Linked DNA regions of Homo sapiens: regions 1 and 2 are each linked to region 3. Evidence: fine-mapped QTL for protein levels in blood plasma. A gene starts in region 3. Each other region holds a variant in brackets. All regions are shown on one strand. Distances are from middle to middle.

Region 1 (10,592 bases), 93 kb before region 3:
CTCCTTGCCTTAAGGTAATAATGACTTTTATCTCAGGAAGAGAAGGATGGGCATAGGAGCCTGCCACCAGACACAAGTCTTTGGCTATGATTTTTCACACATGGAATTAATCCAGAGAAAATAGACAAGAAAGCTAAATTTTTAAAGAAACTGTAGTGACAGAGGAATCCCAGCCCTGGCTAATGGTAACCTTGTGAGTGCTTAATCCATAAAGCGGGATTAGGGTCCTTAAACTTGTACCACTGGGAAGGACCTGAAAAAGATGTGCAGGCTCCCAGAAAGTCGTCTTGCCTGTGTTCATGGAGGACAATGAACAATGAGGAATCTCACTGTGGCAGAACTAGGAACTGCCAGTTTGGTTAACCAAGAAGTGCAGTCTTTTCCAAGTCCGGTGGTCCCTACAATTCTTTTTTTTTTTTTTTTTTTTTTGACAGAGTTTTGCTCTTGTCACCCAGGCTGCAATGCAATGGTGCGATCTCAGCTCACTGCAACCTGCGCATCCCAGGTTCAAGTGATTCTCCTGCCTTAGCCTCCCAAGTAGCTGGGATTACAAGTGTCTGCCACCATGGCCAGCTAATTTTTATATTTTTAGTAGAGACAGGGTTTCGCTGTGTTGGCCAGGCTGGTCTTGAACTCCTGACCTCAGGTGATATACCCGCCTGGGCCTCCCAAAGTGCTGGGATTACAGGCATGAGCCACTGGGCCTGGCCTATCCCTGCAATTTTTAACAAACAAGATTTGCTATTTTTTACAGATAGAAACTGCTTTTTGTTTGCCATTATCACATTTTTTATATGAAAATTCTTTCTCCATCATTGTATGTTGTACACATTGAAGACAGATAATTAACTTTTGACTTATGAGTCACTAGAACGTAAGCTACACTCAGATTTGACAAATAGGACAGCATATCACACAGAGGTCCTGAATTTCAAGCTGGATGTGGTAACTGAATGAAACTTTGGTGTGGTCTTCACTGGAAAGGCGAGAGACCCGCAATAATGAGGAACAAGGGCCTGGGAATGTTGGGTAGCCAAGGGAATGGGTAAAGGTAAATGTGGTGGTTTGTCTATCCAAAGGCTCTTCCCTATGCCCCTCTCCTGACCTCCTCAATTGCGGGGGCTGGAAAGCTAAAGCACTCACCTTCCCAGACATGCTTGTAGCTCAGGGTAATCAAGTAGCCCAGAACTGGCCAATGAGGCATGGGTAGAAGTTACTGGTGAGATTTCCAAGAAATATGATTGGTTTTTAAGGGACAGTCTGGCCAAAGGCTGTCGTTCCCTTTGGTCCTTCCGTCTTCCTGACCCCTTCCTTTTTCTTCTTGCCTAGACTAGGTAATTAATACCTGGAGGTGTAGCAGGCATTTTACAACAGTGAAGTAGAAATTTTAAAATGGTGGAACGAGACAGAAAGAGCTCCTATGACACCATTGAGAAGCTGCTCCAGAGCCACGCTTCTTATGACATGAGAAAAATAAACTCCTATCTGGTGGAACTACTGTGATTGAATCTTCTGCCATTTGGATGTGAATTAATTCTTAACTGACATAATGTGGACTACATGCTCCAGTCATTAAAGTATATGTTTTAGAAATAAGAGTATTTATCAAAGTGTGTTAAAAGATTTTGATCAAAAGTCAGTCCTATGAACAATGGTTTGGGAAACACCAAGTTAAAGCAAATTAAACAGCTTACTTTATTTAAGGAAGTACAGGATACTGCATTTCCCTCACTTATTTCATTATCAATTTCAATGCCCTGGTTTCACTAGAACAAAGTTTGGGAAATTCTGGTGTATGACATATCAATAATATAGGACATAATTAATAACTTTTTCCTAAGTAAAAAAACAGGTTATAGTATGTATTTATGTTTACGAAGATTATGTCTTCTGAACATTTTTATCTATTTACTTGTTTTTCCATACTATCTAAATAAAATATAACTACTTATGTCATTCTTGTAATCAGAAAAAAAAAAACACAATACTGTTTTCTCAGTAGAATTCTGCTTACTTGGGGGGAATGAATGGAGACATGTGTTAAGTTCTTGCATGTTGTATTAAGTAATAGAACTACATTCCGGTAATGTATCTGCCTTAGATAGCATGACTATTCTAAGGCTGCTTCATGGATCACGAGGTCAAGAGATTGAGACCATCCTGGCCAATATGGTGAAACCCTATCTCTACTAAAAATACAAAAATTAGCTGGGTATGGTGGTGCAGGCCTGTAGTCCCAGCTACTCGGGAGGCTGAGGCAGGGGAATCGCTTGAACCAGGGAGTCAGAGGCTTCAGTGAGCCAAGATCGCACCACTGCACTCCAGCCTGGTGACAGAGCAAGATTCTGTCTCAAAACAAAAACAAAAACCAAAACCTACTGTTTGCTTAAAAACCTGCTGACAGAGCACATGACCAGCTGTGGAGATGAACACGGGAGGGATTGGGGGTGGGGGTTGGGGTTCTCTGTTTGTTCCTGAGAAAGTAAGAAACCCTCAGCTCAGACTAGTCTGTGGCACCAGCAGAACTGTCTTGAGGAGAAGATAGAAACTGTTGCATAAAGAATACTCTGAAGAAGGTCCTCACATGAGTGGCAGTCAGACAAGCTCACGGTGAGTACAGGTGCCTTCAGTTCTGTCAAAATGTTAAGATATATTAAGGAATAAATTAAGGAATATTAAAACCATCAGAATTTTATTTCTTCTACATCTAAGTGACCATATATAGTTGTAATGTGGCCAAAACTAACTTGCCACAAAAAATATCAATTATTTGTAATTTATTTAGACAATGGCTCTTTTTGAGGTTTTTAAAGAAAATTTAAAATGAAATACAAACTCAATTTATAAAATTATTTTGCTATGGGGTAGACAGTTAAATAAGGCCTAAGAACTCAATGGAAATAATGTATAACTATTAATATTCTGATTTTAATAGTTGTATTGTGGTTATATTGGAAACGTCATTTTTGTGGGAAATACACACTAATGTATTTGGAAATGATGGGACACCCGTTTGGAAACTTTCTTTCAAAAGCTTCAAGAAAAAAGGTCTATGTATTTTTCTTGCAACTTTTCTGTAAATTTGTGATGATTTCAACAATATAAAAATGCATTTAAATCAATGATTAAGCAAAAAACCTCACTAAATTCTATTCATCACCTTCTCCACACTTGTTTCAGATCACTAGAAATATCAGTTCTGCAAGCTCACACAACTGCGAACCAATTTATTAATGGACACGCTAAGCTACATTGCTGTGGAAAGGCATTGTCTTAGCATAGTTTTTTTCCAACGAGTACCCTGACAGCATCTCTATTTCTACTTAGAGGCTGAAAACACTTTGCCATTAAATAACTATTTTCAACAGTGAGAATTTTGTATACTAAAAAATATATAAAGATATCTCCTCCATAATCCATTACACTCTCCAAGGTATTTTCACATACCTTACATCACTGGATTCTCATCAGATTGGGAGGCAACTTGAGGGAGCTGAAAGAGAAGGAGTCCTAGACTAGGAAGGACTTGGCCTGTGATTCCAGCTGCACACATCCTGTGTGCCTTGGGAACATTGCCTAAATTCTCTGGGCCTCTCCTTCAATAGCTGCATCTCCTAAGTAATAAATGTGCCATTTACAATAATCACACTTTTCATTGTGAAGATATAGTAAAGTAAAAGTCACCAGGATGAAGTATAAATCACAATCAAGGATCACTTGTTTATCCAACCAACAATTATCCTGTACTTGTTCAGTGCCAAGCACTGTTCTAGGCACAGGAGACATAGCTATGCCCTACAGATATGGTTCCTGCCATCAAGTTCACAGTCTAATGGAAGCAGAGACAGACAGGACAATCAAATGATGATATCACCAAGTGACTGGGGTAAGGTAAAGAGTGACTTTAAGAAAGATAGTCACAGTGAGCTTCTTTAAGAAGAGCTGACACTTCAGTAACAGGAGGCAGCCGTGCTAAGACCTGCACGAGCAGCTCCCCCAGAGTGACCCATCAGAGGGGAAAGATGCCTTCAGAGGGAAAGGTTGCTTTGTGGAAATGCAGCTTTCTGTCAGTGTCCTGTGATCCCAGGCTGCAGAGTCTGTGAACACAGCATTATCCCTTCAGCTGCTGGTTGTTTGGGTACATTCATGGAGAAATCATATCAGGGTGAATAAGAGTACCCCAATTATTCTAACCTCAAACTCAAAGAGATTCAGCTAAAGAATAACCCTAGACTTTTAAGGAATTTTTTTTAAAGATAATGTGTGTATGTGTGTGTGTATGTGTGTAATATTATTCAAATTTTTATATGATTACATTTCATACGAATATTATTTCTGAAATCAGTTATTTTCTATTCTCCTAACTCAACAATTACACTCCCATTTACATACTATATTAGGGCAATTATCCTCAAGTATAATTAAGAAGCTAAAAAATGAGCACAGAAAGTCTTTGTGACCACATACAGGCAGACTGCCTTATAATTGAATTGCATGAATCAGGTAAAAAGCAAAGAAAGAAGAGAAAAGTTATTCCAACTCTAAAACCTCCGACTATCCGACAGTCATGGATTGTCCCCAAACACGGACTGTTAGTTTTATTGTCATTTACTTTGTACATTCACATCAGTAAAGTTTAGTCATTTGATTCATGCTTCAAAATTTTTTAATTGCAAAGTTTTCATGACTTAAAAATGGAAAACTCCTGAATTAGAAAGACTGTTCACATTTATGTGTCTGTCTATTTGTGCTAAAAATTATTTCTCCAGTCTACATTTACATTCCAATCTAGGATTGCTCTTAGAGAATTCTGAAATGCTTTCTATATTTGGTAGAACTGCATCAGAAACAAAAATATGCACATTTATTTCTTGAAGGATCATACCATGTTTAACATGTAATTCCAGCTCCCCTTTGCCTTTACATTTTTCTTTCATGGGGAAAAAAAATGCTTTCAAGGTATGGATGGCACAGGCCATTTGGCCTCAGACCAAAAATCACCTGAGGATCTGTGACTTCCTGGAATAGCTGGGTGTCAGTCATAGAGGTCCTGGTTCAGAGGCTGAGGCACACAAAGCCTCCTTATGTCAGGAGGGTGCTAGAGTCAAAATTCTCATCCTCTCCTTTCCCATCTAATCTCTATTCTTAAGAAGCACTTAAGGCACACAAAGTAAGTGTTGGGTGAATATTCCAGAATTAGCAAAGTGTGCTGAGACTTCTAATCATTTCACAACAGCGTTCTCTCCTTCTTTCTTTATATCTCTGAGTATTAGTTGAGTGAATGGCTGCTCTTCTACAGTCCACTTCTCCCAGCTAAGTGAGTTTGTGTGGTTGAGTGTTGGCCAAGAGTGTGTGAGCAGAAGCTATTCCCCAAAGGAAACTGCAACCCCTACACTGCTCTTTTCCTCACTCCTTGGACTGAACAACATTGACCACCCCAAGATGAAGGCAAATCCCTAGGGAGTAATAAAGCCATGGGATTAAAGGATCCTGGTTCTTTGAATGACATCATGAAACAAAGCCACCTACTTTTCAGCTGTTACATGACAGAAAAATATTACTAAACTTCTATTTTGTTTAAACAACGGTGCTTTCAGTTTGTTGATGACAGAAGTTCAATTAGTATCCAAACTAGCACCCACAGCAATTAATTCAACATGTATTTGATTATCTCCTTTCTTTGTGCTAGGTACTGTGCTACTTTCAGTGGGAAATTAAAAAAAAATCAGAAGATATATTTCTTGCCCTTACAGAGGTTAAAAACTAGTAGAAAATTATATGCACAGAAGTAACTACAAAGCAAGGGAGGATGCAAGAATGCATCAGAGAAGGAAGACAGCATAAAATTCTGTCA[A/G]TCTGTTAAACTTGTAACCAACATCTTTTCTTGAATGCCAAATATGTGGAATGACAAGCCAGCCTGCATGAAAATGATAAGGGTGGTGAAGCTTATTTGCACCCATCTTTTTTGCCTGTTTCATATTTCTTCCTCCTTTCCCAGGCACCCAGAGCCTTCTGTCTTCTATAAACCTCCCTTGCAGTGTCCCAGCAGCTCTGGATGGTACCCTATGCCCATACTCCCCTCAGTATATGCATGTCAAGTTTCCTTTTTCCTCAGGTTCTTACTGCCTCTGGTTCTTACTTAACAAGTGTTAAAGGTATACTGTGTTGCTGCCTCTCTAGTAATAATAGCTAGCATTTCTTGAACATTTGCTATGTACCAGGTATTATTCTAAGCTCTTTCTATGTAACTCGTTTAATATTCACTGAAATCCCATGACAAAGGTACTGTTAGTAGGAAAACTGAGGCTCAGAGAGGTTCAGAAATTTGCCCAAACACACGCAAATAAGTGGTTTGTATTTGAACCCAGGCAGTCTGATTCCTGAGCATCCAGAATCTATGCTTTTAACTGCATACAGCACAACTTTTAGCATTTTGTCAGTCATCTTTGGAAAATAAGAGGTTTTAATGCTAAGTGTTGGGCTCACAGGAGTTAAAACTACTTTGGCAGGACAATAAGAAAAGATAATTTGCATAAAAAGTCCTCACATCAGACCTTGTAGATAAAAACCTACCAATGGCGTGCCAAACCAAGTTCACTGTTTCTCTTCATAAGGTTAAATGAAGACTCTTGAGGAGATAAAAGATTCCCTCATCTCAAGAACTTACTACCCAAATGACACTTGTAGTAGTCTTTCTGTTCCAGTGATGATCTGGTGCTCCTTTAAGGAAGGAGTGGGATCCTATAAATAGGAAGATGATCTGCTTGGGTGCCATTCTATAGGATGGCACTATTTCCCAAACTGGAGTATGTTTTGATTGTCTCTTCTTCACTCCATTGGTGAGGGAGGCATTCCCACCCTGGAATTATAGGGATGGCAGAACACACAACGCCCAGCACTGGGCAGATTATATCCCAGCAGTTTATCAGTCACATAGATGCACAGACTGGGGAAGAACACTGCACTCCACTCAGGACGGCGGGGTGAGTTGCATTTGGGAACACAGTGAACAAGCAGAGTTGTGGGAGGCAGGCTTTGTAGTACCAAGAGGGTGAGGTGACCCTTGATTCCTGCAGAAGCACGTGCTTGGCTTGTTTTAATAATGTTGCAGGCCCAGAATTAAAGCCTGCTATTGAGGGATAAACAGACACTGTGCCTGGTTCCTCTGGTAAGTAGTGTTGTTTGGCTGGAGGACTTTATCCACAGGAGTAGAGTGGAGGAGGGGGGAGCTTGTGATTAGGCCATTAAAAACTCTCCCAGTTTCAGATGGCAAAGAAGCACATAATGCTGAATCTTAATTTCAAGCCTGATACCACAAGGCGGAGGACAGTCACGGGTGATAGCAAGATGTGTTCATGTGGTTCACAACACATACATAAGTATATTGATTATCTAGTGAGAAAATTACTCCTTTTGCTGGGATTGAATGAGAATTTCATTCAATCCTCAGATTTTATCAAGGAGGAAATTTGGGGTCAATGCCATTGTGCATTTACCAGCTCTCAAAGACTTGCTCATCTCCCTTTCTAACAATAACAAAGCAAGTCCAAAACCTTTTCCATGGGCAGTTAATACTATCTATCCAGAATTTTAAAATATTGTTTCCTTTTCGTTGCATTAATATTTGTTGTTTGCCTTCTATTTATAGAGATGCTGATATTCTAATTACGATAGTGATATAGTTGCCTTTTAAATAACTATGAATTTAAAACACAGGAAATAAAGGAATATCAAGTAAATAATACTATAGTAAATAGCACAGAGAAATGTATAATTATTGAACAAGATTCCAACATTTGGGAAATTCTTTAGTATGAGATAATGGTTTTCCTGGCTCATCCACTATGGGCACAGTGATAATGACTGTTAATATTAACAGAATACATTAAGTTTGGATATGAATGGTATCTGAGCAAGTTCTTTCTAATTCAAGACACTCAAAGACTAAAGATTACAGAAAAAGTTTAGTTGCAAAGATCAAAACTTATATAATGAAATCAATTATATATAGTCCTATCAAACAGTAAATAACCACACACATCTGTAGTTCAAGTAATGGTATCGACTATTGTTTCCCTATCTCAGAGAATGAATGAAAACTAAGTTGGGGTGACAGAGGTTAAGCCTCTATTCTGGTTATAATCTTTTGTGATTTAGGCTACAGTTTTAATTTCTTTGTCATGTGCTTTATGTATTTTTTTTGAAATGATACAGCATAGTACATACAAGATAAGTTGGGCTTTATAGCTAAACAGACCTGGGTTCAAATTCTGCCTCTGCCATCCACTTGCTGGGTGACTTTGAACAAATTATTTAGCCTCTCTGTACCTTGCTTCCTCATCTATAAGAAGAGATTATACGTCATTTGAAGAAATTGTCTGAGCAGTGGAACTAGTAAGTAAAAAGGACTGTGTATAGTGCCTGGCAGCACAGTAAGCCCCTGAGAGCTGGCAAATGGAACAATCTGCTTAAAGTTTGAGGTTTAAAGTTTAATGCTTCTCTGTCTGAGCTGTAGTTAACATTAACTATTTCACTCTCTCTGTAATTCTCTTATTTGTTGCCACAGAAATATGAAATTCAAGAACTCTGTAGACAGAAGTCTCCTCCTTTGCCAACGCATCCTAGCAATTCCCTCTGCAAAATACCTCTTAGAAAAACACCAAAGACATGGACTCAGCCTAAATGCCGACCAAGGATAGACTGGAAAAAGAAAATGTGGTACATATACACCATGGAACACTATGCAGCCATAAAAAAATGGGATCATATCCTTTGAAGGGGCATGGATGGAGCTGGAGTTCATTATTCTTAGAAAAGTAAAACAGAAAAAGAAAAGCAAGTACTACATGTTCTCACTTATAAGTGGGAGCTAAATGATGAGAATACATGAACACATAGAGGGGAACAAAACACTCTGGGGACTTTCAGAGGATGGAGGGTCAGAGAAAAGAGAGGATCAGGAAAAATAACTAAGTAATTCATCACCCAAGTACTAGGCTTAATACTTGAGTGATGAAATAATCTGTACAACAAACCTCCATGACACCAGTTTACCTATGTGACACCAGTTTACCTATGTAACATACCTGCACTTGTACCCTGAAGTTAAAATAAAAGTTTTTTTTTAAAAAAAGAAAACACCTGCTCTAGCTATAGGTGATGCGATTTCTTTTAATCAAATTTGCTTTAGGTAGGGAGAAAGTCTCTATCATTATGAGCAAGGTGCCCAGGATAAAAGCTTCTGAAGGACTCACAGGAAAGTTTGAGACCTGGAAAAATGTATTGGTACTGGCATATGCAAATAAAAGTCTTACTAAATCAAAATTGATAAAAGTTTAGTTAACTACAAAGCATAATATTATGCTGTAGTGGACTGAATGAGATATCCAGCACTGACCTCCAGAATCCATAAATATTACCTATTTGAAAAAAAAATCTTTGCAGAAATAAGTTAAGGATGTTTAGATGAGGAGATACTCTTGGATTATCTGAGCCAGCCCTAAATGCCATCACAAGGGTCCATAGAACAGAGAGACAGAGGAGGAAGTTATCACAGAGAGAAGAAGGTGATGTGGAGATTGAGACAATGAATGAAGAGATATACCTACAAACTAGAAAATGCCAACAGCCTCCAGAAGCTGGGACAGTCCAGGAACATCCTCTGTGGTAGCTCCCAGAGCAGGTACAAACCTGTCAACACCTTGATTTTAACCTGGTGAAATTGATTTATTTACTATTATACATTAAGTTCTGGGATACATGTGCAGAATGTGCAGGTTTCTTACATAGGTATACATGTGACATGGTGGTTTGATGCACCGATCAACCTGTCATCTACATTAGGTATTTCTCCTAATGCTATCCCTCCCCTAGCCTTCCACCCCCCAACAGGCCCCAGTGTGTGATGTTCCCCTCCCTGTGTCCATGTGTTCTCATTGTTCAGCTCCCAATTATGAGCGAGAAAATGTGGTATTTGGTTTTCTGTTGCTGTGTTAGTTTGCTGAGAATGATGGTTTCCAGCTTCATCCATGTCCCTGCAAAGGACATGAACTTATCCTTTTTTACGGCTGCATAGTATTCCATGGTATATATGTACCACATTTTCTTTATCCAGTCTATCATTGATGGGCATTTGGGTGGGTTCCAAGTCTTTGATACTGTGAATAGTGCTGCAATAAACATATATGTGCACGTGTCTTTATAGTAGAATGATTTATAATCCTTTGGGTATATACCCAGTAACTGGATTGCTGAGTCAAATGGTATTTCTGGTTCTAAATCCTTGAGGAATCACCACACTATCTTCCACAATGGTTGAACTAATTTACACTCCCACCAACAGTGTAAAAGTATTCCTATTTCTCCGCATCTTTGCCAGCATCTGTTGTTTCCTGACTTTTTAATGATTGCCATTCTAACTGGCATGAGATGGTATCTCATTGTAGTTTTGATTTGCATTTCTCTAATGACCAGTGATGATGAGCTTTTTTTCATGTTTATTGGCTGCATGAATGTCTTCTTTTGAGAAGTGTCTGTCATAGCCTTCACTCACTTTTTGATGGGGTTGTTTTTTCCTTATAAATTTGTTTAAG
Region 2 (10,592 bases), 80 kb before region 3:
CATTGACAGTGGGGTGTTAAAGTCTCCCACTATTACTGTGTGGGAGTCTAAGTCTCTTTGTAGGTCTCTAAGAATTTGCTTTATGAATCTGGGTGCTCCTGTATTGGTTGCATATATATTGAGAATAGTTAGCTCTTCTTGTTTCATTGATCCCTTTACCATTATGTAATGCCCTTCTTTGTCTTTTTTGATCTTTGTTGTTTTAAAGTCTGTTTTATCAGAGACTAGGTTTGCAACCCTGCTTTTTTTTTTTTTTTTTTTTTGCTTTCCATTTGCTTGGTAAATATTCCATCATCCCTTTATTTTGAGCCTATGTGTGTCTTTGCACATGAGATGGGTCTCCTGAATACAGCACACCAATGGGGCTTGACTCTTTATCCAATTTGTCAGTCTGTGTCTTTTAATTGGGGTGTTTAGCCCATGTACATTTAAGGTTAATATTGTTATGTGTGAATTTGATTCTGTCATTATGATGTTTTCTGGTTATTTTGCTTTTTAGTTGATGCAGTTTCTTCATAGTTTCAATGGTCTTTATAATTTGGTATGTTTTTGCAGTGGCTGGTACCGGTTGTTCCTTTCCATATTTAGTGCTTTCCTCAGGAGCTCTTGCAAGGCAGTCCTGGTGGTGACAAAATCTCTCAGCATCTTCTTGTCTGTGAAGGATTTTATTTCTCCTTCACTTATGAAGCTTAGTTTGGCTGGGTATGAAATTCTGGGTTGAAAATTCTGTTCTTTAAGAATGTTGAATATTGGCCCCCACTGTTTTCTGGCTTATAGGCTTTCTGTAGAGAGATCCACTGTTAATCTGATGGGCTTCCCTTTGTGATTAACACAACCTTTCTCTCTGTCTGCCCTTAACATTTTCCTTTTATTTCTACCTCGGTGAATCTGACAATTATGTGTCTTGGGGTTGCTCTTCTCAAGAGGTATCTTTGTGGTGTTCTCTGCATTTTCTGAATATGAATGCTGGCCTGTCTTGCTACATTGAGGAATTTCTCCTGGATAATATCCTGAAGAGTGTTTTCCAACTTGGTTCCATTCACCCCATCATTTTCAGGTACACCAATAAAACATGGGTTTGGTCTTTTCACATAGTCCCATATTTCTTGGAGGCTTTGTTCATTCCTTTTTCTCTAATCTTGTCTTCACACTTTATTTCATTAAGTTTATCTTCAATCTTTGAAATCCTTTCTTCCCACTTGATTGATTTGTCTATTGATACCTATGTATGCTTCATGAGGTTCTCATGCTGTGTTTATCAGCTCCATCAGATCATTTATATTCTTCTCTAAACTGTTTAATCTAGTTAGCAACTCCTCTAACCTTTTTTCAAGGTTCTTAGCTTCCTTGCTTTGGGTTAGAACATGCTCCTTTAGCTTGGAGGAGTTTGTTATTACCCACCTTCTGAAGTCTACTTCTGTCAATTCGTCAAACTCATTCTCCATCCAGTTTTGTTCCCTTGCTGGTGAGGAGTTGTGATCCTTTGGAGGAGAAGAGGCATTCTGATTTTTGGAATTTTCAGCCTTTTTGTGCTGGTTTTTCCTCATCTTCATGGATTTATCTACCTTTGGTCTTTCATGTTGGTGACCTTTGGATGGGGTTTCTGTGTGGACATCTTTTTTGTTGACATTGATGCTATTCCTTTCTGTTTCTTAGTTTTCCTTTTGACAGTCAGGCCCCTCTGCTGCAGGTCTGCTGGAGTCTGCTGGAGTTTGCTCCAGACCCTGTTTGCCTGGGTATCACCAGTGGAGGCTGCAGAACAGCAAAGATTGCTGCCTGTTCTTTCCTCTGGAAGCTTCATCCCAGAGGGGCACCCACCAGATGGCAGCTGGACCTCTCCTGTATGACGTGTCTGTTGACCCCTGCTGGGAGCTGCCTCCCAGTCAGGAGGCACAGGGATCAGGGACCCACTTGAGGAGGCAGTCTGTCTATTAGCAGAGCTCAAGCGCTGTGCTGGGAGATCCACCGCTGTCTTCAGAACTGGCAGGCAGAAACGTTTAAGTCTACTGAAGCTGCGCCCATAGTCGCCCCTTCCCCCAGGTGCTCTGTCTCAGGGAGGTGGGAGTTTTATCTATAAGCCCCTGACTGGGGTTGCTGCCTTTCTTTCAGAGATGACCCACCCAGAGCGGAGGAGTCTAGAGATGCAGTCTGGATACACCAGCTTTGTGGCACTGTGGTGGGCTCTGCCCAGTTTGAACTTCTCAGTGGCTTTGTTTACATGGTGAGGGGAAAAATCCCTACTCAAGCTTCAGTAATGGTGGATGCCCCTCCCCCCACCAAGCTGGAGCTTCCCAATTTGACTTCAGACTGCTGTGCTGGCAGCGAGAATTTCAAGCCAGTGGATCTTAGCTTGCTGGGCCCCATGGAGGTGGGATCTGCTGAGCCAGACAACTTGGCTCCCTGGCTTCGGCCCCCTTTCCAGGGGAGTCAAATGTTCTGTCTCGCTGACATTCCAGTAGCCACTGTGGTATGAAAAAAACCTGAAGCTAGCTTGATGTCTGCCCAAATGGCTGCCCAGTTTTGTACTTGAAACCCAGGGCCCTGGTGGTGTAGACATCCAAGGGCATCTCCTGGTCTGCAGGTTGCAAAGACCATGAGAAAAGCACAATATCTGAGCTGGAATGCACTGTTACTCATGGCACAGTCCCTCAAGGCTTCCCTTGACTAGGGGAAGGAGTTCCCCAAGCCCTTGCACTTCCCACATGAGGTGACGCCCATCCTGCTTCTGCTCACCCTCCATGGGCTGCACCCACTGTCTAACCAGTCCCAGTGAGATGAGCTGGGTACCTCAGTTGGAAATGCAGAAATCTCCTGCCTTCTGCATTAATCTCGCTGGCAGCTGCAGACTGGAGCTGTTCCTATTCGGCCATCTTGCCAGCCAAAATTGATTTTGGACTTCTGGCCTCCATAATTCCAAGAGAATAAATTTCACTTGTATTAAGCCACCCAGTTTGTTACAGCAGCTATAGAAAACTAACACAGATGCCAACTTGTCTGCAGCTCAGCTATCATAACAATAACATAATGAACTTCACACCATAAGACTATCAACTCTTAACAACTCCCAACTTTATAAAAATTCTTTCATAAATTAAACAGCCAAAAATTATACATAATATGGGAAGTGTGGTTATATTTTAATATATCTGATATGGTGAAAAGCAAAGCCTCTAAAAATAAAAGATACTAGGAATATTAATGTCTTAACATGTTCGTGAGTCTGTGGGTCCTGAGATGCTCTCTAATTACTTGGAAACACTCCCAGTTGGATTAATTAACTGCCAGCTTAAGTAATTGGGAGTAACAGCTATTTCATTGTTTAACCACAGATGCATTGCCCTCCCTCCCACATACCAGAATAGGGAGATTAAGCACATGGCCAGAGAAAAAATAAATGTACTTTTGATGAGAATAACTTTTTTTGGCCCAGCTTTACTATTAATTAGTATTTTCACAAGAACTCTGTCCAAGTTATGAAATGTATTTAGGTAATCCCAAGTACAACAAGTAGACAGGTATAATGTCAAAATCTCATAAGTAGAATGTCAAAATCTCAGAATGTCAAAATCTCTTTGACATTACAGCTGGCTTGTGGCATGGAACAATTTTTTCCATCTTATACTTTTCTGTGTATCTTGAATTTTTTAACAATAAGCAATAATCCCCTCTCAAATCAGAAAAAAATAGAAATAAAGAGGAACACCCTAAATTTACTTAGTTTCTATTTATGTTCGAACATGGAATCTTGGACCCCAGTTACTTTGCTTCAGTGCTTACTTGCCATCAAAGAAGCCTCCTTTGTATTGACTGAGCCCAAAACCTGTTCTAAGATTTGCCGGCCTGGTTCCTTAGACATACTGACTGCCCCCCCTTTACTCTGTCACTACAGCAGCAAAGAGCACCATAGAGTATGGCTTATTAAGGTCTCTATCATGGTATAACTGAGCAAATCAGTGCTGACACACTTTCTAACACTTTCTAACAAAACATACCATTTAAACAGCAACAACTTTTTTTTTTTTTTTCTTGAGACAGAGTCTTGCTCTGTTACCATATTGGCTGGGGTGGTCTCGAACTCCTAACCTCAAGTGATCCACCTGCCTCGGCCTCACAACATGCTGGAATTACAGGCATGAGCCACCATGCCTGGCCTACAGCAACATTGATGCTTGGTCTCCCTTAGACTTGTGAGATGGCCC[G/A]AGGAACCTTGTTTTAACTCAAGATTAATTCTACGTAACTATAAGTCTTTATTATTCTTATCAAGACCTTACATGTGGTCTTCTATTCAGGTAGAGACTAATCCACAAGGTTGGCAAGTTACACACGGAGAGAGGTAATTTACCTTCCTAACCAGTTTCAGTTTCATAATCACAGCACCATTAGTTTCACCTCTGCATATAATTAAGCGAAGACTCACCCAGCTGTAGCCATGTAAGCTGATCATTCAAAATCCACATATTTAGCTTTCTGTCCTTTCTATTTCTTCTCTCTCATCTCCCTAGGTAGTTGTGAAACACAAACCCCCAAACATCTTCAAAAGCTGTCACAGATCATTGCAGAAGCATAAAGTACTTTTAAAGCATTTCTGCCATGGAGATAGATTCCTATCATATCTTTCCTTTCAATTAAAGCCTGACTGGAATATGTTTAGCAGTGAACAATGAAGTCTGTTTATGAAAAGTTGTTACTAATTTGTGCAAGCACATTTCTACGGGTTTAAAGCAACTATGAATCACACAAATCCATGTGGGCAAGAAAAAAATTTTAATTTGAGTTTCCAGGTCATTTTTACTATGTGAGTTCTTTCTTTCCAAAACTAATTACTGAAGGAAGCAGGGCAGGGTGAGAAGAGAAACAGCCAAGCTAAGTAAAAAGAAAAAAGAAAAGACTAAGCATTTTTCTTGAGATCAGAGAAATCACAATCATGTAACAATGTTTTTTACCCTGCTAAGACAGAAACCAATTTCACTGACTTGAGACACACTCCAGAAGAGAACTGGGTTTCTCAGTGAACCATGAACTGCCTCTGACCCTCAGTTCCCATCATTGGAAATCAGAGCCGTGGGCCAGTTGGGCAGTTTCCATGCTGTACTCAGTGGCATTTGGAGGGTTCTGAGCATGTGCTTAGGGGCAGCCCAAGTTCCACACCCTTCAGCTTTTATCTGTTATGTACATTAACTCACATAAGATTTTTGTTTTAGAAAGAAATAAGATGTGGATTTTTGTTGGTTTGTATAAGACAAATTGAAAAATAAGACTGGTTAATAGTAACTATAAGAAAAAAATATCTTTACATTTTATGGTGCCTGGTCCCATAAATTATTACTATTTTTTATTATTATTATACTTTAAGTTTTAGGGTACATGTGCACAACGTACAGGTTTGTTACGTATGTATACATGTGCCATGTTGGTGTGCTGCACCCATCAACTCGTCATTTAGCATTAGGTATATCTCCCAGTGTTATCCCTCCCCCCTCCCCCCACCCCACAAGAGTCCCCAGTGTGTGATATTCCCCTTCCTGTGTCCATGTGTTCTCATTGTTCAATTCCCACCTATGAGTGAGAACATGTGGTGTTTGGTTTTTTGTCCTTGTGATAGTTTGCTGAGAATGATGGTTTCCAGCTTCATCCATGTCCCTACAAAGGACATGAACTCATCATTTTTTATGGCTGCATAGTATTCCATGGTGTATATGTGCCACATTTTCTTAATCCAGTCTATCATTGTTGGACATTTGGGTTGGTTCCAAGTCTTTGCTATTGTGAATAGTGCCACAATAAACATATATGTGCATGTGTCTTTATAGCAGCATGATTTACAATCCTTTGGGTATATACCCAGTAATGGGATGGCTGGGTCAAATGGTATTTCTAGTTCCAGATCCCTGAGGAATCGCCACACTGACTTCCACAGTGGTTGAACTAGATTACAGTCCCACCAACAGTGTAAAAGTGTTCCTATTTCTCCACATCCTCTCCAGCACCTGTTGCTTCCTGACTTTTTTTTTTTTTTTTTTTTTTTTTTTTTATTATACTCTCAGTTTTAGGGTACATGTGCACATTGTGCAGGTTAGTTACATATGTATACATGTGCCATGCTGGTGCGCTGCACCCACTAATGTGTCATCTAGCATTAGGTATATCTCCCAGTGCTATCCCTCCCCCCTCCCCCGACCCCACCACAGTCCCCAGAGTGTGATATTCCCCTTCCTGTGTCCATGTGATCTCATTGTTCAATTCCCACCTATGAGTGAGAATATGCGGTGTTTGGTTTTTTGTTCTTGCGATAGTTTACTGAGAATGATGGTTTCCAATTTCATCCATGTCCCTACAAAGGATATGAACTCATCATTTTTTATGGCTGCATAGTATTCCATGGTGTATATGTGCCACATTTTCTTAATCCAGACTATCATTGTTGGACATTTGGGTTGGTTCCAAGTCTTTGCTATTGTGAATAGTGCCGCAATAAACATACGTGTGCATGTGTCTTTATAGCAGCATGATTTATAGTCCTTTGGGTATATACCCAGTAATGGGATGGCTGGGTCAAATGGTATTTCTAGTTCTAGATCCCTGAGGAATCGCCACACTGACTTCCACAATGGTTGAACTAGTTTACAGTCCCACCAACAGTGTAAAAGTGTTCCTATTTCTCCACATCCTCTCCAGCACCTGTTGTTTCCTGACTTTTTAATGATTGCCATTCTAACTGGTGTGAGATGATATCTCATAGTGGTTTTGATTTGCATTTCTCTGATGGCCAGTGATGATGAGCATTTTTTCATGTGTTTTTTGGCTGCATAAATGTCTTCTTTTGAGAAGTGTCTGTTCATGTCCTTCGCCCACTTTTTGATGGGGTTGTTTGTTTTTTTCTTGTAAATTTGTTTGAGTTCATTGTAGATTCTGGATATTAGCCCTTTGTCAGATGAGTAGGTTGCAAAAATTTTCTCCCATGTTGTAGGTTGCCTGTTCACTCTGATGGTAGTTTCTTTTGCTGTGCAGAAGCTCTTTAGTTTAATTAGATCCCATTTGTCAATTTTGGTTTTTGTTGCCATTGCTTTTGGTGTTTTGGACATGAAGTCCTTGCCCACGCCTATGTCCTGAATGGTAATGCCTAGGTTTTCTTCTAGGGTTTTTATGGTTTTAGGTCTAACATTTAAGTCTTTAATCCATCTTGAATTGATTTTTGTATAAGGTGTAAGGAAGGGATCCAGTTTCAGCTTTCTACATATGGCTAGCCAGTTTTCCCAGCACCATTTATTAAATAGGGAATCCTTTCCCCATTGCTTGTTTTTCTCAGGTTTGTCAAAGATCAGATAGTTGTAGATATGCGGCATTATTTCTGAGGGCTCTGTTCTGTTCCATTGATCTATATCTCTGTTTTGGTACCAGTACCATGCTGTTTTGGTTACTGTAGCCTTGTAGTATAGTTTGAAGTCAGGTAGTGTGATGCCTCCAGCTTTGTTCTTTTGGCTTAGGATTGACTTGGCAATGCGGGCTCTTTTTTGGTTCCATATGAACTTTAAAGTAGTTTTTTCCAATTCTGTGAAGAAAGTCATTGGTAGCTTGATGGGGATGGCATTGAATCTGTAAATTACCTTGGGCAGTATGGCCATTTTCACGATATTGATTCTTCCTACCCATGAGCATGGAATGTTCTTCCATTTGTTTGTGTCCTCTTTTATTTCCTTGAGCAGTGGTTTGTAGTTCTCCTTGAAGAGGTCCTTCACATCCCTTGTAAGTTGGATTCCTAAGTATTTTATTCTCTTTGAAGCAATTGTGAATGGGAGTTCACCCATGATTTGGCTCTCTGTTTGTCTGTTGTTGGTGTATAAGAATGCTTGTGATTTTTGTACATTGATTTTGTATCCTGAGACTTTGCTGAAGTTGCTTATCAGCTTAAGGAGATTTTGGGCTGAGACGATGGGGTTTTCTAGATAAACAATCATGTCGTCTGCAAACAGGGACAATTTGACTTCCTCTTTTCCTAATTGAATACCCTTTATTTCCTTCTCCTGCCTGATTGCCCTGGCCAGAACTTCCAACACTATGTTGAATAGGAGCGGTGAGAGAGGGCATCCCTGTCTTGTGCCAGTTTTCAAAGGGAATGCTTCCAGTTTTTGCCCATTCAGTATGATATTGGCTGTGGGTTTGTCATAGATAGCTCTTATTATTTTGAAATACGTCCCATCAATACCTAATTTATTGAGAGTTTTTAGCATGAAGGGTTGTTGAATTTTGTCAAAGGCTTTTTCTGCATCTATTGAGATAATCATGTGGTTTTTGTCTTTGGCTCTGTTTATATGCTGGATTACATTTATTGACTTGCGTATATTGAACCAGCCTTGCATCCCAGGGATGAAGCCCACTTGATCATGGTGGATAAGCTTTTTGATGTGCTGCTGGATTCGGTTTGCCAGTATTTTATTGAGGATTTTTGCATCAATGTTCATCAAGGATATTGGTCTAAAATTCTCTTTTTTGGTTGTGTCTCTGCCCGGCTTTGGTATCAGAATGATGCTGGCCTCATAAAATGAGTTAGGGAGGATTCCCTCTTTTTCTATTGATTGGAATAGTTTCAGAAGGAATGGTACCAGTTCCTCCTTGTACCTCTGGTAGAATTCGGCTGTGAATCCATCTGGTCCTGGACTCTTTTTGGTTGGTAAACTATTGATTATTGCCACAATTTCAGAGCCTGTTATTGGTCTATTCAGAGATTCAACTTCTTCCTGGTTTAGTCTTGGGAGAGTGTATGTGTCGAGGAATGTATCCATTTCTTCTAGATTTTCTAGTTTATTTGCGTAGAGGTGTTTGTAGTATTCTCTGATGGTAGTTTGTATTTCTGTGGGATCGGTGGTGATATCCCCTTTATCATTTTTTATTGTGTCTATTTGATTCTTCTCTCTTTTTTTCTTTATTAGTCTTGCTAGCGGTCTATCAATTTTGTTGATCCTTTCAAAAAACCAGCTCCTGGATTCATTGATTTTTTGAAGGGTTTTTTGTGTCTCTATTTCCTTCAGTTCTGCTCTGATTTTAGTTATTTCTTGCCTTCTGCTAGCTTTTGAATGTGTTTGCTCTTGCTTTTCTAGTTCTTTTAATTGTGATGTTAGGGTGTCAATTTTGGATCTTTCCTGCTTTCTCTTGTAGGCATTTAGTGCTATAAATTTCCCTCTACACACTGCTTTGAATGCGTCCCAGAGATTCTGGTATGTGGTGTCTTTGTTCTCGTTGGTTTCAAAGAACATCTTTATTTCTGCCTTCATTTCGTTATGTACCCAGTAGTCATTCAGGAGCAGGTTGTTCAGTTTCCATGTAGTTGAGCGGCTTTGAGTGAGATTCTTAATCCTGAGTTCTAGTTTGATTGCACTGTGGTCTGAGAGATAGTTTGTTATAATTTCTGTTCTTTTACATTTGCTGAGGAGAGCTTTACTTCCAACTATGTGGTCAATTTTGGAATAGGTGTGGTGTGGTGCTGAAAAAAATGTATATTCTGTTGATTTGGGGTGGAGAGTTCTGTAGATGTCTATTAGGTCTGCTTGGTGCAGAGCTGAGTTCAATTCCTGGGTATCCTTGTTGACTTTCTGTCTCGTTGATCTGTCTAATGTTGACAGTGGGGTGTTAAAGTCTCCCATTATTAATGTGTGGGAGTCTAAGTCTCTTTGTAGGTCACTGAGGACTTGCTTTATGAATCTGGGTGCTCCTGTATTGGGTGCATAAATATTTAGGATAGTTAGCTCCTCTTGTTGAATTGATCCCTTTACCATTATGTAATGGCCTTCTTTGTCTCTTTTGATCTTCGTTGGTTTGAAGTCTGTTTTATCAGAGACTAGGATTGCAACCCCTGCCTTTTTTTGTTTTCCATTTGCTTGGTAGATCTTCCTCCATCCTTTTATTTTGAGCCTATGTGTGTCTCTGCACGTGAGATGGGTTTCCTGAATACAGCACACTGATGGGTCTTGACTCTTTATCCAACTTGCCAGTCTGTGTCTTTTAATTGCAGAATTTAGTCCATTTATATTTAAAGTTAATATTGTTATGTGTGAATTTGATCCTGTCATTATGATGTTAGCTGGTGATTTTGCTCATTAGTTGATGCAGTTTCTTCCTAGTCTCGATGGTCTTTACATTTTGGCATGATTTTGCAGCGGCTGATACCGGTTGTTCCTTTCCATGTTTAGTGATTCCTTCAGGAGCTCTTTTAGGGCAGGCCTGGTGGTGACAAAATCTCTCAGCATTTGCTTGTCTATAAAGTATTTTATTTCTCCTTCACTTATGAAGCTTAGTTTGGCTGGATATGAAATTCTGGGTTGAAAATTCTTTTCTTTAAGAATGTTGAATATTGGCCCCCACTCTCTTCTGGCTTGTAGGGTTTCTGCCGAGAGATCCGCTGTTAGTCTGATGGGCTTTCCTTTGAGGGTAACCCGACCTTTCTCTCTGGCTGCCCTTAACATTTTTTCCTTCATTTCAACTTTGGTGAATCTGACAATTATGTGTCTTGGAGTTGCTCTTCTCGAGGAGTATCTTTGTGGCGTTCTCTGTATTTCCTGAATCTGAACGTTGGCCTGCCTTGCTAGATTGGGGAAGTT
Region 3 (9,870 bases):
AAGAAAGTAGTACCTAATTTGCATATGTTAGAATGGAAATTATCCTGTAAAGATGCATCTACTAAATGCCAGATGTATTTAAGGAGCATCTACATTTGTAATAGACATAAGCCATTTCTAATTTAAATCACATGTTATTTTGTTTACTTTTTGAAAAGAATGTGACATGGAAAGGGCATCACCATCTAATGAAACCTCTTCATTTTACAAATTAGAAAAACAATGCCCAGAAAGTTGTAACTTACAGACATCTCGGAGTCATGAAGTGGTAGAGCTGGAACCAGGGCTCATGTCTGCTCAATGCCCACTCTCATCGCATTTCCACCATCTCACACACACACACACACACACACACACACACACACACAAACACTAGTGTCTCATGCATCTTATTGCTCACATTCTTTTCAAAAAGTAAATAGAACAACATGTGACATAATTTAGGAAGGGGACTTAAAAGTAAAGTGTGTATGACAGAAATAGGGCCACTTAATGGAAACAGCGATGCCAACAAATTACGTTCCTTAGCATTTTGCAAGAAATAGAGCTTTAAGGGGATCTAGAGACCAAATTCAATTTCCCAAGCCAATCATTTAACAGGGCGGTTGTACATTTAGGTTACCCTGAGTGTACAATAGCACTGGATTCGAGTTTTGCTTTTTGATTTTCATTTCTGTCTTTTGACAAGTTTTGTGATAGTAAAGGGGAAAGAATGTCCATCGACTTTCAATAGTCATTTCTACTATGACACCTCTGCTAAAACATCACCCTAATTTAGGCCCCAAGTAGCTCATGCCCAGATTATACCTACGAGACAATCAGGTCCTCTGGCCCACAGGCGCCCCCCCTTCCTATACTGCACCTCACTGACAGATTTATCACCTTTAAACCATTGTTTGCATCATATCACTCCCAGTCAAGCCCTGTGATGGTGTGTGTTTAATAGCTTATTGATTCTGTTCCAAATATTCTAATCTGGCTTTTTCAGTTCTTCATAATCTGTCTGCCTCTCAGAAATTCTACTCTTTCCAGTAAAGCATGCTCATTCGCATCGCCAACCCTTTACTAAATGCTTTTTCCCTTGTCTCTGTTCCCTCTTTCCTCTCTACTATTGCAAACTCTACCCAAGCCTCAAGGCACGCATTCGTGTCCTCCATTCAGCCTTTCCCCACTATTCCAGCCCCCGCTGTTGAGCTCTTTCTCCCTTTTCTGATTCCGTGAATTTTTCCACAGGTTACCCTGCTGGGCTTGCATATCCAAATTCAGTGCAAGTTCTAGGGCAGGAATCATGTTTTATTTTAGGAATCTCATGAGCCCTTTCCCCACCTCCATTGCTACATACCTCAGCACCTTGCTGACTACGACAGATTCTCAGGGAATACTTTGACTGTTGGATAGTTTAGACACGGTGGAGGAAGAGAATGTCAGCTACTTGCAAGCAATGCTGGCAAAAGCATCAGTACTATTTCTAGGGTTAAGTCTCAACCCCATTGCTCTTCTTCATGAATGTACACATTCACTCTACCACTAAATTGTTACTGACTCCTTCCTCTTCAGCGTTTGTTAAATAAGTTTATTTTCTCTAACCTTGGTCCTAAGTCTGATCCACCTCCAAGCAAGTTCACTGTACCTTTTTAGCCACCTCTCTTACTCCAAGGACACAGTCAAATGAAAGTTTTCATTTAGGCTCCCCCTCTCTTTCCTCAATAAGAGGAATTCCCATTCTTTTTCATTTGTGGTGTCCCCTTCCCAGGCTTGAAGGTAGGAGTGATATCGTGGTGACACTTCAGCTGTGGAGACTCTCCTCCTACCACATAAATGCTCCAAACCCAGATGTGTCTACAGCCCAGCTAAGATTAGAAAATGTTACTGGTTTCCCTTCCCTTCTCTGCCCCGCAAAATGACCATGATGCAGAGAGCAAGCTTTGAAGAGTTGGGATTTTTTCCTACTTAGAAGCCTTCTCACTACCTTCCCTCGGTGGAGGGGAAGGGGAAGCCTGCTTCCAGCCACATCTGAAGTTCCAGCTCTGCTTTGTGAGTTCTGACTCCTAAGGAGGCAGGAGAGACCCTCTGGAGGGCTCTAGGCATCCTGCTACTCCTCCTCCCGCTGGCACTCTTCCCTAACGCCAGGTGATCACACCTTCAGTCAAAGAGTTCCCGTTCTTCTGCCTCCTGCAGGATATGCTTCTTGGTCTATACTACCACGTGAGCTTCTTTAGTGGGTTTCCCTGCTCGCCCCTGCCCCCACCCCCCGACCCTCACTTGCGAGCACAGCGCCTCACCCCGGTGGACAGCCCGCCGGCGCCGCCAGGCCCTCTGCTGTGCGCACAAGTCAGCAGCTGGCGGCCTGCTCGCAGCACTGGCAGCGAGGACCTCGGAATCGCTTCCGCCCTCGGGCCTTCTCACGCGTCTAGGGACTGCCTCCAGCAGGTGCAGCCCCAGGTGCCCAATTGCCAGATCTTTAACCTCGCGCTCTCCCAGCCTTCAAAGTTCTCCAACCCGCGCCTGCCAGCCCCAGCGCGCCCTCTTGTCCAGATGCCAGCTCGGTTCAGGGTTCGCCCTCCCCGCGACTCCAGCCCCAGACTTTCCTCCTGGTTTCCAGTGCCCAGCACGGCCACTTACCCAGGGCAAGGGCCAGGAGCAGTGGCAGGGAGCTGGCGCCGCTGCACCGGGCGGCCCGGTCCATCAACCCCGCTCTGCCGGGCCGGGCAGCCCCTAGACAAGTCTCCCTCCTTCTTCGCCCCCTTCCCGGGCCTCGGGCGCCTGAGAGGGTGCCTGGAAACTAATCCCGGAGGCAGAAGGAAACGAAACTACTTCCCAGGCTGGCACCCTGGCTACAAGGCAGGGAAACACCCAGGGCGGGAGGCCGGCCGGCTCCGTGAATGTCGCCGGGAGGAGGGAGCCTCCTATTTATCCCCCCTCCTCCTGCACACACCCCGCCAAAGAGGCGCAGGACTTGGTCCTGGGAGCCTCCACGCTGCTCCCACCCAAATTGCCCCACACCCATACCCACACCCAGGGACATATTCGGGCTGCCCTCGGACCAGCTCACCACTCCCCCTGCTGGGTCTCACCTGACTGACTGTTCATTTCCCTACCCCCTAGGGCGTAAACAAGGTAGGGAGGGAGATGTAAAGAATCCGCGTGGAGGGGTGTCGGGGGTTCCGGTCGGGCCTGCAGGCTGACCTAAACTCCTGGAAGCCACCGAGGAAGAGTCAGAGACCCAAACGTGTTCTGGAATTCTAACTTCCTTTATTTCAGAGGATTGCTAGTGTCATGGAGAAACCAGACTCACCATTCATTGTGGTTGACTTCAGGCATTTGATAATGCAGGCAATTTCAAAAGAGTCATTGTTGCCTTTTAAAGTCTTGAAGCCATAGCGAAACCTCGTCTCTACAAAAAATACAAAAGTAAATTAATAGCCGGGTATGGTGGTGTGCACCTGCAGTCCCATCCATTCCCTGAGGCTGAGGTGGGGAGGATCGCTTAAGCTTGGGAGATGGAGCCTTCAATGAGCCTAGATCGAGCCACTTCACTCCAGCCAAGGCGCAAGAGTGAGACACTGTTTCAAAACAACGACAACAACAACAACAACATCAGCAACAAAAAAAAAAAAAAAAAAAAAGAAAAGAAATGAAAAAAGTCTTCAAGCTAGTGTCTTAGTTTCTGGGTGCATTGTCTTCTAATAATTCATAAAATTGGGGCTCACCAGGACCTACTTTAGAAATTTCATTTGTATTTCTGTTTATGAATTTACTCATGTATTCAGTATATTTTCATTTACTTGCATTAAGCAATTTCTGGAACAGAAAGACATCCTCACAGCTTTTAGAGAAAGCAAGCAGCATCCAATTTTACCTTATGTGGTTATATATTGCCTCCAAGATAACCAAAAGATACAGCTGCTTTTGTACTGGTCTGTGTTCCTCATATAAGATTTATGTGGATAATTATGCCCCTCAGTACAGAAATTTTATTTCTATAGCATCCAAAAGTCATGTAAGCCTTATTTTACATATGAAATGTAGTTTGGGTGTCTGCCTCTTCCTCCTCATCCTACTGTTTAAGTTAAGTAAATTGTTGTGCACTTGTCTCCCACGAATAACATTTCATTTCAAAACTAAATTATTTTACTGCCCCAGGCAACTGATATATCCGGTGGAATAAAAATCAGCTCTTAATTTTCAGAATCCCATTCTAGTCCCACATGACAGCTCATAAAACATTGGTAGAGAGGGCAGGCATGAAGTTTAAAGAAACCCAAAGTTGTAAGATGGAAGGTTACTGCACCCCAGCTAAAAAGAGCAGAAACACTGGAAGCCAATGGATTTTGACATCATCTCCCTCCCTCTCAACACTTCCACCCTGCATTTTTCTTTTCTGATATTCTCTCCATCTCTCAGCACCAGTGCCCTAAGTTAAAGTATCTCTTACTCCAAGATGGCATTTAGCCTAGCCAACAGCTGTCCTGTTAGCCCCAACAGAATGCTACAATTTTGTTTTCCTTTTTCGTAGATACTAATAAAAAAAAAAAAAAGCGAGACCTAAACAAAAAGTACTAAATGTTTGTTGAGCATTGGAAAATTCCAGGACTTGGTGTAAGTATTCATCATTTATGCCATTCAAGTGGTAAATTAACTTTTTCAGGCCACTAGAATATGAAGTAGTATAATTTAATATACTAAATAGGACAGATAAATTAATAACCTTCCTTGAGGGCTTTATTTACCACCATAAATAAAATAAGTACTCCCAAGAAAATCCAAATTTTCTGACACTGGATATCCAATCTCTTCAATGTTAAGAGACTTTTCCTGTCTTTTTTTGTTTGTTTCTTTTTTTTCCCCTCACTTTCTTTCTCTCTGTTCTTCCTCCTCTTCTTCCCTCTCCTTCTCCTTCTTCTTTTTCTCCCCCAGCCCCCAACCACCTCTCTCTCTCAAGTCATTTGCTTATGGGGCATGGTAAAGCTGGAATACAACCATTACATTTGGAAGAGTGGAAGGTAAGAATTGATTTTCCTGAGTCCTCAAACATGTAACTGAGTTGCGTCTCAGTGCTTTCATTTGCAAGCTGAGCTGTTACTAAGAGAAAAATAAACCAAAGTTACACCAGAGTCACAAGGTGAAACTTGTATTCCTAGTTAACCCCAAGGTAGGAATTGCTTGAGTGCTGTTCTTCCTGTGCCAGGTTTAGGCAGGTATAACCAGTCCTCCCAAATCTGGTATGAGGCTTAAGTAGATTCCTTTGGAGGGCCTTTAAGCATCAGCCTTTTTCTCTTCCCACACAGAACAGCCTGCAGCTGGGACCGTCCTCCCCGTCTTCTGGACAGGACAAAATAAACTTGTAGTTACATATAGGGCACAACACATAAACAGACACACGCCATGATGGAAAGGAAAATTTTGGAATGCATTCCTTCTAGGCCAACATGTATTCTCCAAATGAAGGCTTTAAGGCATTCAGTAGTATAGGAAAATTTCCTAATGACCATTAACTTTATTTAATAAGAGTGGGTGAATGAAAATGATGAAAGGCATTTTTAAAATTGTAATTTTTATAGTAATGATAAGCATCATGCATTGTAGATTATTAGTGGTACAGTTACATAGAGAGAACTTTCAAATATTTTATTTAAAACTACTGAATTGGTTTCTAAGAATGTATCAGTGAAAAATCACTGCTCAAAAGTTGTATTCAGGTAATTGTATTTTATAATCTAGTTGTTCTGAGGGAGGTAGTTATTTTTTTTCCTGCCTACTTTCTTGTATCTTCCTCTTCAGTCTAGGGGATCCACTTTTTATATGTATTTCTCAATGTGTTTGATTTGTATCTCTTTTATTTTTATTTATTTTGTTTTTTGAGACAAAATCTTGCTCTTGTCCCCCAGGCTGGAGTGCAATGGCGTGATCTCTGCTCACTGCAACCTCTGCCTCCGGGTTCAAGCAATTCTCCTGTCTCAGCCTCCCAAGTAGCTGGGGATTGCTGGCACCTGCCACCACACCCAGCTAATTTTTTGTGGTTTTTTTTTAGTAGAGATGGGGTTTCACCATGTTGGCTAGACTGGTCTCGAACTCCTGACCTCAGGAGATCCACCTCGGCCTCCCAAAGTGCTGGGATTACAGGCGTGAGCAACCACGCCCGGCTGACTTGCTATCTCTTTTAAATGGCAGCTTAACATATGTTATTAAACCTCAAAAATAATTGTCTCTGTGACATTATACCTGTTAGTTTCAGTTCACCATGATGATCTTTTTCTTTGGCCATATTGAAACATACTTCAAAAAGTAACTTCTGATTTTAAAAAATCTGGGCTTTTGTGCTGGCCCTAGTTGTAGGCTAAGTGAGAAAGCACCTATGTGGCCCTAGACATCTCTTCCTAAAGTCCTTGCCACAGTGGCTTCATCTCTTCCTACTTGGTCCCAGACTTCCAGCAAGGTAGACACTCCTCTAGGTGGGACAACAGAGCTGGAATATTATGTACAATTGGTTTTGGAATCTGTTCAGTCTGTTCAATTTGGATCTGTGTCACCCAATGACTGAACCACAAACTACTTACCTCTCTGAACCTCAGTTTCCTCATTGATAAAATGTGATGGTAATGACTTGCACAGTTTTTATGATTCCCAATAATACATATCTTCAAGGAAAAAATCTGGTGTATTAGAAACTGTTCAGTGAATTATAGTTGATAGTAGTAGGAGTAGGAGTACTAGTAGTAGTAGTATTGGTAGAGATGGGTGTCTCACTATGTGACTAGTCTCGAACTCCTGGCCTCAAGTAATCTTTCCTCCTCAGCCTCCCAAAATGCTAGTATTACAAGCATGAGCCACCATGTTCCACTGATAGTTGTTATGTCATTATAAAATTTTACATGGTACATAGAGAGAACCAGTAGGAAAAGGCATCCTTACTAACCCTCTCTTACTAATAGTTGAAGTAGAGAAAGAAAGGCACAGAGCAAGGCTCTGCTGGGAAAGTAACACTGAGCTAAAATTCCATGGATTTGGGTACAATTTTGCCTCTTCATATGCCCTTACACCTCCCTTACACCTCTCTGACCACCTTCTCCATCCTTTTTATTTCTCCTTCCTCCTTCAACTCTCTTTAGAGACCAAGATAGCACGTAACCCAGGATACAAAAACGTGTTGAATATAAACAAAGTACTGTGATTTGAAGATTTAAATAAATGAGCTACCTAGTTTCCCAGAATGCAAAGAAATAAATTCAAAAATTAACTCAAAAAATGAATGTTTGTTGTTGTTGTTGTTGTTGTTGTTGTTTTTGAGACAGAGGAGTCTCACTCTGTTGCTCAGGCTGGAGTGCAATGGCGCAATCTTGGCTCACTGCAAACTCTGCCTCCCGGGTTCAAGTGATTCTCCTGCCTCAGTCTCCCAAGTAACTGGGATTGCAGACATGCATCACCACGCCAAGCTAATTTTTGTATTTTTAGTAGATACGGGGTCTCCCCATGTTGGCCATGCTGTTCTTGAACTCTCGACCTCAGGTGATCCACCCAGCTCGGCCTCCCAAAGTGCTGAGATTACAGGTGTGAGCCACCGCACCCAGCCAAATAATGAATGCTTAATGAGTTTACAACAAACTAACACAGCTTTACGTGGTCATTTTCCCTCCTTCCCCCAACTTCTTGGTAAGGAGAAATGGTGACAGGAAAGAGTAAGAAATGAGAAGCAGCAAAGCTGGAGAAGAGAGGGAGGATGAGCTTAAAATAATTCTTCAAAAAATCTTTCATAGATGCAGAATGATATGTTAAAGGAGTTAAAAAAAAGGTGAAATCTACCTCTTGTATCATCTTCGTTTCTCATCCTTCCTTTGTTTTAAGGTGACATCAATATACATGTTATTAACCTCAAAATAATTTAATGGTCCTTATGATTCCCCCAAACAATTCAGTTATATCTTTAGTCTAACAATCCTTGGAATTTAAGATTTTTTCAGAGATAACTACATGTCTTCCTTTAATGATACATTTAAATTGCTTTTATATTTCTCATAGTGTAATTTTTTCGGAAATATTTCTTTAGCCCTATAATATATACCTGCCATCTGTCCATAAATACAGTATTTTTAAAACGCTAAAACTAATGTAAACTCTTCAGAAATGACTTAGCAGAAAATATGATATCATGCTTACAAAATATTCTGAAGTTACTGTCCTTTGTCTTTAAGGTATATTGAAAGTTCTTATTATTGTCCCTATGAATCTCTGTAAGATACTTTTAATAATTTTGTCCCCAGCATTACCACCTAATAATGGTCCACATAACTAGTTAGTTTTGAGATCCAAGGAGTATAATCCACAAATGCAAACAAGTTTAAACCTTAGAAAATAAAACCAGCATTACTCTCTAAATTTACTATGTTTAGGCTTTTGGGAGATAAGAAAAACTAGTATCCGTTTAATTTAATAAGAATTAATTATCTACATTTGTACAATACTTTCCCATATATTAACGATTTGAATTTAAAGTAGCTGCTGAGATAGGCAGGCAGTATTATTATTCTCATCTTAATGAGAGGAAATAGATGTCTGCATAGTCAAGTGATTGGTCCAACTTTCAAAGTAACTCCTAGAATCAAGGTCTAAAGGCAGTAAGGCTCAAGCTATCATAACGAAATGCCATAGACTGGGTGGCATAAACAACAAAAATTTATCTTCTCACAGTTCTAGAAGCTAGGAAGTATGAGATCCGGTGATTCAGTCCTAGTGAGGTCTCTTTTCCTGGCTTGCAGATGGCCACCTTCTCACTGTGAGCTCACATGGCCTTTTTTCATCATGTTCACATGAAGAGAGATAGGGAGATCTCGCTTTTTCTCTTCTTATGAGGCCACCAATCCTATCAGGTTGGGACTCCATTATTATGACGTCATTTAACCTTAATTACCTCCTAAAAATCCTATATCCAAGTCACCCTGGGGGTTAGGGCTTCAATGTATAAATTTTGAGGGAATACAAACATTCAGTTCATAACATAGAGTTGGGTTTGGGAATTAGACAGGCTTAGCTCTGCCACTTTTTTCTTTTTAATAAAGCTTTTTATGTTTAAAACGTTTAGATTCAAAGAGAAATTCAAAAATGTTACAGAGAGTTTCTGTACATCTTGCATGTAGTTTCTCCTATTGTTAATAGCTTACCTTAGTAAGGTTCATTTGTTGAAACTAAGGAACAAACATTAGTGCATTGCTATTAACTAAAGTCCATATTTTACTTACATTTTCTTTGTTTTTGTCTAATTTTTTTTTTTATGTTCCAGTGTCCCATCCTGGATACCACATTACCTTTAGTCGTCATTTGTCCTAAGGATCCTTTTGGCTGTGACAGTTTTTCAGACTTTGCTTTTGCTGGCCTTGAAAGTTTCAAAGAGTACTCATCAGGTATGTCATAGCATGTTCTACAATTGTGTCTTTTCTGAGGTTTTTCTCATGGTTAGGTTTTTCTGGTTTGGTGGAAGAAGACCACAATGATAAAATATCATTTCTACTGATTTTATGAAGGGTGAATAATGTCAACATGATAACTATTCTTGATATTGACCTTGGTCACCTGGTTGAGTTCATTTTGTCAGGTTTCTCCATAGTAAGTAATTCTTTACCTCCTCCTACTCCCCATACTGTATTCTGGAGGGAAATCACTAAGTCCAGCCCATACTTACTGGTGGAGAGTTATGCTCCACCTTTCTGAGGGAGGAGTATCAACATAAATTATTTAGCATTTTTTGCAAAGATTTTTCTATTCTCTTATATTTATTTATTCAATCATTCATTTATATTGTTATGAATTAATGGAATTATTTTATATTTGCCCTATAATCCAAAACAACTTGGATCTCTGTTACCACCTGCTGAATGC

Direction of the effects. Positions count from the first base shown, and alleles are read on the strand shown. Strength reflects both the effect of a copy and how common the allele is.
For the plasma level of the protein whose gene starts at base 2,884 in region 3, G is the high allele of the variant in region 1 and A is the other (strong association).
For the plasma level of the protein whose gene starts at base 2,884 in region 3, G is the low allele of the variant in region 2 and A is the other (strong association).

The links. PIP is the chance, under the fine-mapping model, that this variant and not a neighbour inherited with it causes the effect. The UK Biobank Pharma Proteomics Project read protein levels with antibody pairs (Olink). The fine-mapping took linkage between variants from a reference panel, not from the people measured, so its PIPs are less certain.
Region 1: its variant is fine-mapped to the plasma level of the BTC protein (UK Biobank, PIP above 0.99).
Region 2: its variant is fine-mapped to the plasma level of the BTC protein (UK Biobank, PIP above 0.99).

The regions. Positions count from the first base shown.
Region 1 is chr4:74,698,250-74,708,841 of GRCh38, forward strand. No RefSeq gene overlaps it. Among named protein-coding and RNA genes, the nearest start is that of BTC, 91 kb to the right of the region's middle. The variant A/G (reference allele first, on the strand shown) is at 5,855.
Region 2 is chr4:74,711,538-74,722,129 of GRCh38, forward strand. No RefSeq gene overlaps it. Among named protein-coding and RNA genes, the nearest start is that of BTC, 78 kb to the right of the region's middle. The variant G/A (reference allele first, on the strand shown) is at 4,200.
Region 3 is chr4:74,791,640-74,801,509 of GRCh38, forward strand. BTC (betacellulin) reads right to left here and starts at 2,884. Exons shown (of 6, transcript NM_001729.4): 1 at 2,623-2,884. The coding sequence starts at 2,686.